Linked DNA regions of Homo sapiens. The protein of the gene in region 1 interacts with the protein of each later gene in a pairwise test. Each region holds a gene or a part of one and is shown on either strand. Other genes may lie near its edges.

What was found.
Region 2: the proteins of FHIT (region 1) and RAB40B interact in a two-hybrid assay, tested with the Homo sapiens proteins (one large-scale study listed by BioGRID and IntAct).

What each region holds. Positions count from the first base shown.
Region 1 is NC_000003.12:60,009,256-60,013,078, reverse strand, and holds part of FHIT (bis(5'-adenosyl)-triphosphatase), read left to right. Parts: intron 1-1,678; coding exon 1,679-1,708; intron 1,709-3,823. UniProt on the Homo sapiens protein: Possesses dinucleoside triphosphate hydrolase activity. Cleaves P(1)-P(3)-bis(5'-adenosyl) triphosphate (Ap3A) to yield AMP and ADP. Can also hydrolyze P(1)-P(4)-bis(5'-adenosyl) tetraphosphate (Ap4A), but has extremely low activity with ATP.
Region 2 is NC_000017.11:82,688,491-82,692,313, reverse strand, and holds part of RAB40B (ras-related protein Rab-40B), read left to right. Parts: intron 1-3,823. UniProt on the Homo sapiens protein: RAB40B small GTPase acts as substrate-recognition components of the ECS(RAB40B) E3 ubiquitin ligase complex which mediates the ubiquitination of target proteins.

The DNA.
Region 1 (3,823 bases):
GTGTTAAGAGTAGCTAAACTTCCCCCAAATGCTTTGTGTGTATGTGTTGTATGTCAAACCATTTGAGTCCCCTTCAGGCAGGTAGTTCAGTTCAGAGTGGGTTTATCAAGCTTATGTTGCAAACCGTGTTTCTGGAGAGACTAAATGAAGGCAGTGAATGAAAACCTCTGTTAATGTTTAGTGAGATACAAGAATAAAAATCACATTTATAGGAAATGGCCATTGCTGGTTATGGAACATTTTTCACTAGAAAGTTAATTCCATAAATGTAAGAGCTGACTTGTGTTAGCACCTAGAGTACTTTCGTATATGCAATGTGGTCAAACTATTTTTTACTGTAACCTACAGTAAGATACATATTTATTTCAAAATCATGCCTGTCTCCCCTGACACACATATATGAAATATATGCATATGCCTATATTGATAAAGGAAACCAGAGTTTCACAAAACAATGTTTACTCATTCTGTGCAGTCTAATAGTTTTTATTCTATTAAGATCTGATTTCTGGCTGGGTGTGGTGGCTCACACCTGTAATCCCAGCACTTTGGGAGGCTAAGACCGGCAGCTCTCTTGAGCTCAGGAGTTTGAGATCAGCTTGGGCAACATGGCAAAACCCTGTCCCTAAGAAAAATACAAAAATTAGCCAGGCATGATGGTGCATGCCTGTAGTCCCAGTTACTCAGGAGGCTGAGGCAGGAGAATCACTTGAGTCCAGGAGGTCAAGGGTGCAGTGAGCCGCCATCATGCCACCATACTCTGGCCTGGACAACTGAGTAAGACCCTTTCTCAAAAAAAAAAAAAAAAAAAACAACAAAAAAAACACCTGATTTACATTGTTTGTAATGCTGATTGCAACCCATTAAGTTGACTTCATGACCCACTAATGGATTGTGACTCTAAGTTTGAAAATCCCTGATATACACAGTTATGCTTAATCCTTACGGCGGGAGTTCTCACCCCGTTAGTCAGGCTCATAGAGGTAGACAAACCTGGCTAAAGTTGCAGAGGTGAAATTCTATTTTGGAATTTCTGATTGTGGAGCCATTGCTTTGTTTGGCCATCTCAACCAGCTGAGTATCTGCTTTTGCTTTATATTATGGCTGGTGACTTGGTGAGTTTGCCCATTTCCAACTAAGCTTCAGAAACAGAGAAAGGGAACCAGTTTGGGAAAAGGGTCCAGCTACAATGAACACTACCATTTGTCTCCCACAAGGTCAGAATAGCCAGAGGACTCTTCCCATATGAAATACCCCATATTCTTCCTTAATGGCTTATGTTTATAGCAGATTTCCTGAGTAGAAGCTTAAAGTAATCAGACATTAATTAAACCACCTCTAAACATAACCAGAAGGTGTGATACTTCACCTCCCCAAACATTTTCAGCCTTCCTTTAATGCAATTAAAACCATAGCCTAGAGCAAAGAGCATGAAAAGTAGCAAGGAGTTGGCTTGCTGGATAATTTATATCATTTTTATACATAACTTCGCACTTACTCTCAGGCGGAAATGGAGAACTGTCTAATCCCGCACATTTGAAGCCAATGGTCCCCATGAGAATACTATAAATTAACACACAATGAAATTGCATCTAAATTATTAATGGGTGATATTTCTGAATAAGCAGGAGATACCATCTATCTATTCTCACCTCTGTTGGTTTTTTCCTACTTCTAGGATGGCCCCGAAGCCGGACAGACTGTGAAGGTGAGTGCTTATTATGTGCATACAAATTAATAAGAGGCGATTATGAGAACTAATAAAAAATCACAACGAGTCATATGCAGCACATTGCTGTTTCATTATGTTATCTTCGAGGTCAGAGAGACCCTCAGTGTTAGAGCCGTAAATCCTGACATTATAAACTCTGCCAAACAATATGTTTCCCATTGGTTTACAAGACATTTACTTTTAGTAGTAAAATTATTATTGTGCAAACGCTAAAACAGAAACTAAATCAAGGAGTCCGGAAACATAAGTCAAAGTGGTTCATGTGAGAGAGTGTCTAGGAAATAGCATGTGAGCTTCCTGTGGGTTTGTGCAGCCCCATGTTAAGCCTGGGGTGTCTTTGACACACCTTTGCTTCTTGACATAGTCTGCTTTTGCTTCATTGTTTTTGAGTGAAGCAATAACCGCAGCAGTAGCATCAAGCTGCCTCCCTTCCTTTCTGTTCTCCTGTGCTTCTCTCTGTTCTCCTTCTCGTCACCCCCACACCTACTCTTTTCCTCCCTGTGTACTTAATACCAAAGTTCAAACCTAATGGAGTCAGTGGAGCTCAAAGATGGGTTTTTAAGTGTGCTAGGAGAAGAAAGGAGGATTTATTAGGATAGTCTCTGCTTCTGTAGTAAAAATAAAATAATAAAATCCTGGCTGATTCAGAAGCTGGGTTTCAGCTCTTTTCATACAAATGCTAATTCCTATACGGGTAGATTCTGCACCTAAGTCATAGAAAAGGCTCTATTTTTGGTGCTAGAAGTCAGAAGCAAGTCAGGCTGGGATGTTAATGTTACACTTTGTTGAAATAAAGTTTAATGCTTCGAAGACTAGCTGTGAGTGGATAAGGTGCTGCCCACACAAACAATGCCAAATAAACGTAAGTTCCCTTTTGATCTTACTTTACTTTTGTCTTTAACACAGCTATTCTGGGACTTTTAAAATACAATCTCTGGGAAATACTTCTAAGCAGTGAAAGTTTATGTAGGGACTGCCACCATATGGGCTACCAAATTCCTTATCATAAAAAAGGGCTAGCCTCCTAATTGCTCTACACACAGGGTATGGTGATAGACACAGAGGCTTTCAGCTTTCCTCTGTCCCACTGTCTCACCTCCATGTGAGGCTCTAAATATACGGATGCAAAGAAAGGATTTAATACCTGTGGCTTCTTTTTGAAATCACTTCTTGAAATGCAAAACACAAATGTTTAAACTTGGTTCCAAGATTTTTTAAAACTCAGTATTCAAATGTAAATTCCAACTATACCGGATTAGTTAGATGCACTATGCAATATCTATTTGATGGAATTCCTTCAGCCATTGAAAGCGATACTGTAGAGGCATAGCTAGTGACATGGGGGAATGCACAAACTGTATTAAGTGGGATGCACAGAATGATAATAGGTGCATAGTAAGCATAGCTAAAACTTATATGAATAGATAGGTTATATGATCTCAAAATTTCATTTAGCCATTCTAAAGCGGGATAGAAAATATTTGCTATGCAACAGGCTCTGAATAGAGATAGAAAGTAGATTAGTGGTTGCCAGGGACTGGGACAAGGAAGGAATGGGGAATGATTCCTAATGGATACAGGTTCTTTTAGGGTAATGAAAACGTTGTGGACTTAGTGGTGATGGTTGTGCAACATTGTGAATATAATAAAGCCACTGAATTGTACGTTTTAAAATGGTGAATTTTATCATATTTGAATTATCTCTTGACTAAAAATAATAAACACACACACACAAAACAAATAAGCAGTGAGCCTAGCTGGGCTGATAACTATGGCTACAGATTGTGTAACTCCAATAGTAATTACTTTTTGATGTCCCAATTATCTGGCCAAAATGTGTAATGTTTTTGTTACCTTTGATGGTGATGATGATGGACTAATTCTTAACATATAGTACTTATATATGAATTGTTGAATGTGGTTATTGTTATCATCACCCTGATTATTTAGCTTAAGTTGAACTTTTTAAAACGATTCTGTTTTTTAAATCAGCAGGTTATGCTGTTTTGCACATCTTTCAGTTGTTTCCAACCTGATCACAGAAGTTTCCTGATATGAAATAATGGGGATATCTTGACTCGTTTGTAGAAT
Region 2 (3,823 bases), on another chromosome or scaffold:
CTTGGATCTTGGACCCTGTCGGCAACTTGACTCCACAGACTATGTGGACCCCACTGCTCTGCCTGTCACCTCAGCCCACGGACCGTGCGGGCCCCACTGCTCTGCCTGTCACCTCAGCCCACGGACCGTGCGGGCCCCACTGCTCTGCCTGTCACCTCAGCCCACGGACCGTGCGGGCCCCACTGCTCTGCCTGTCACCTCAGCCCACGGACCGTGCGGGCCCCACTGCTCTGCCTGTCACCTCAGCCCACGGACCGTGCGGGCCCCACTGCTCTGCCTGTCACCTCAGCCCACGGACCGTGCGGGCCCCACTGCTCTGCTGGTTACCCAGGGAAGTGTCTTCTGTTCTGCAACACACCTCACACACGCTGGTACCCCTGGTTCCTGGTGGCCTGGACCCCATTTCCGTCTGGCAGCTGGGTCCCCGGTTCACGCTCTTTCCCCTCGGAAGTTCCATTTCTCTCCAGGCAGGGGTAGAAGGAAGGCGTCACCAGGCTGGCCCAGGATATGGTCGGGGCACAGCAGGGCCCTGCCTTTCCGCCACCCCAGCTGGTGCTTCCAACACCAGATTGTGTCCCTTCTCTGAGTGCTGAGTTTTCTGCCTTTTGCCCATTTTTTTGTTGTTGTTTTTTGAGATGGAGTCTCGCTCTGTCGCCCAGGCTGGAGTGCAATGGTGCCACATCGGCTCACTGCAACCTCTGCCTCCTGGGTTCAAGTGATTCTCCTGCCTCAGCCCCCCGAGTAGCTGGGATTACAGGTGTACCATGCCCGGCTAATTTTTGTATTTTTAGTAGAGATGGGGGTTTCACCATGTTGGTCAGGCTGGTCTCGAACTCCTGACCTCAGGCAATCCGCCTGCCTGGGCCTCCCGAGTAGCTGGGATTACAGGCGTGAGCCACCGCGCCCGGCCTTTTGCACATGTTTATTGGTGACAGGGAGGGGGGTGGATTAACTACACCAGATGCCACCACCTCTTGCCTCCCACCCTTTTCCCCAGCATGAGGGCCTCATTGTCTTCTCCAATCCTTTCTCCTGGCTGTTTCTTCAGTGTCCTTTTCCCAGCATAAAAGTCCCATTGTTCTTTCTTTGTTTCATTTTTGCTAAGAGCTAATAATAATAACCCTCACTTACTGAGAGGGGGAATCATCTTGAGAGAGGTTATATTGTGAGGCCCAGAGAGGCTGAGCCACTCCCTCAAGACTACACGGTGCGTGGACACACCGGGGTGCAGGTGCAGGGCCTGGCCCTCCCCTCTGTTTCCAATGTTTAATGTTGGGAGAAGGCTCCACTGAGGGAGCTTTTCTTCCCGGAGACGAGCATCAGAGCCTCCGTTATGGAAAGTGACACAGTTGCTGGGGTTTGCTCCTTCCTCTTTGCCTTGGACAGATGTTCCCCTGGGACATGCGTGCCCACTCCATGCTCCCCCGGGGCAAACGTGCACACTCCGTCTCTCTCCAATTCTGCAGATCTTCCCCTGGACACACGTGCACACTCTCTGTTCCCCAGGAACACACATGCACACTTCATCTCCCTCCAATTCTGCAGATCTTCCCCTGGACACACGTGCACACTCTCTGTTCCCCAGGAACACACATGCACACTCCATCTCCCTCCAATTCTGCAGATCTTCCCCTGCACACACGTGCACACTCTCTGCTCCCCGGGAACACATGTGCACACTCCATGCTCCCTCCAATTCTGCAGATCTTCCCCTGGACACACGTGCACACTCTCTGCTCCCCGGCAACACACGTGCACACTCCATGCTCCCTCCAATTCTGCAGATCTTCTCCTGGACACACGTGCACACTCTCTGCTCCCCGGCAACACACGTGCACACTCCATGCTCCCTCCAATTCTGCAGATCTTCTCCTGGACACACGTGCACACTCTCTGCTCCCTGAGAACACATGTGCACACTCCATGCTCCTTCCAATTCTGCAGATCTCCCCCTGGACACACGTACACACTCTCTGCTCCCAGGAACACACATGCACACTCCGTCTCCCTCCAATTCTGCAGATCTTCCCCTGGACACACAAACACACTCTCTGCTCCCCGAGAACACGTGTGCACACTCCGTGCTCCCTCCAATTCTGCAGATCTTCCCCTGGACACACATGCACACTCCATGCTCCCTCTGATTCTTCAGACAGAGGTGGATTTGCTGATTAATACAGCTACTCTTCTGGTTTCCCTTGGCAACCACCTCGAGATATAAAACACGATTTATAAAGTCATCACTTTCAAGTTTGAACTGAAAGTCAAATCATATTTTATCCTGCTTCTTTATAGTGCAGTCCTTAAGGAGGAGATGATGGTTTTCTACTTCTTTTTTTTTTTTTTTGAGATGAAGTTTTGCTCTGTCACCCAGGCTGGAGTGCAGTGGCACGATCTCGGTTCACTGCAACCTCCGCCTCCTGGGTCCAAGCAATTCTCTGCCTCAGCCTCCTGAGTAGCTCGGATTACAGGTGCCCACCATCACGTCCAGCTAATTTTTTGTAGTTTTAGTGGAGACGGGGTTTCACCATCTTGGCCAGGCTGATCTTGAACTCCTGACCTCGTGATCCACCCGCCTTGGCCTCCGAAAGTGCTGGGATTACAGGTGTGAGCCACGTGCCCGGCCAGTTTTCTACTTCTTTACCTCCTGCGGTACCACTTGTGAGAAAATTAATTTTTAAAATACATTAAATGTCTCTATGCATTTGAAAATAACACCATTGCATTGTATCAAGTTTTGCCATTAGAAGCCCTCAATTCGGCCCCACCTCGCCTGTGTCCTGCAGGGTCCTCTCCCCGCCCTGATGACCATCCTTTAGCTTGACCTGTTACTTCTGTAACCCCAGCCCCAGGTGAACCTGATTTCCAGTGACAGGCTGGGAGAGGCTCAAAGCAAGCCAGCCAGGTTTCTCCAGGCAGAGAGAGGGTCAGCTCTGGGGGCTGGAGGCCCACCCATCGCCCCTGAGTCCCCTGTCACCAGCCTGTCCACCAGCCTGGCACCAGGCACCACCGTGGTGCAGAGTGGACGCAGCTGGAGCAGGCAGACCCGCAGTCCTGCCTCATCCTGCCAGCCGCACCTGCTCACTGCTCCTCCTGCCCCAGGAGTGCAGGCTGCTCCGCGCTGGGTGCATTTGGAGTGAAGACAGTGGCAAGGGGCGTCAGAGGCAACAGTGGAATCAGCTGGTATGTGCTGGCTGTGGGTACTGTTCACATTCAGAGATGTTTTTAACCTTTATTTTAAACTTTATTCCCAGGATTCTTCAGCTTAATTAGCTCTATATACACAAAACCTGAAAAGAACAACAGCATCCAAAGGGCTTGGGCATAAAAATATTAGAGATCTAGACTTTATCAAACAAAACAATTTTTAAATTTTTTTTGAGACAGAGTCTTACTCTGTTGCTCAGGCTGGAGTGCAGTGGTGCGATCTTGGCTCACTGCAACCTCTGCTTCCTGGGTTCAAGCAATTTTCCTGCCTCAGTGTCCTGAGTAGCTGGGATTACAGGCATGCACCACCATGCCCGGCTAATTTTTGTATTTTTAGTAAAGACGGGGTTTCACTATGTTGGCCAGGCTGGTCTCGAACTCCTGACCTCAGGTGATCCACCTGCCTCAGCCTCCCAAAGTGCTGGGATTACAGGCGTGAGCCACCACGCCCGGCCCAAACAAAACTATTTGTTTATTTATTTATGTATTTTTGAGACGGAGTCTCGCTTTGTCACCCAGCTGGAGTGCTGTGGCGTGTTCTTAGCTCACTGCACCCTCCGCCTCCCGGCTTCAAGCACTTCTCCTGCCTCAAGCCTCCTGAGTAGCTGGGATTACA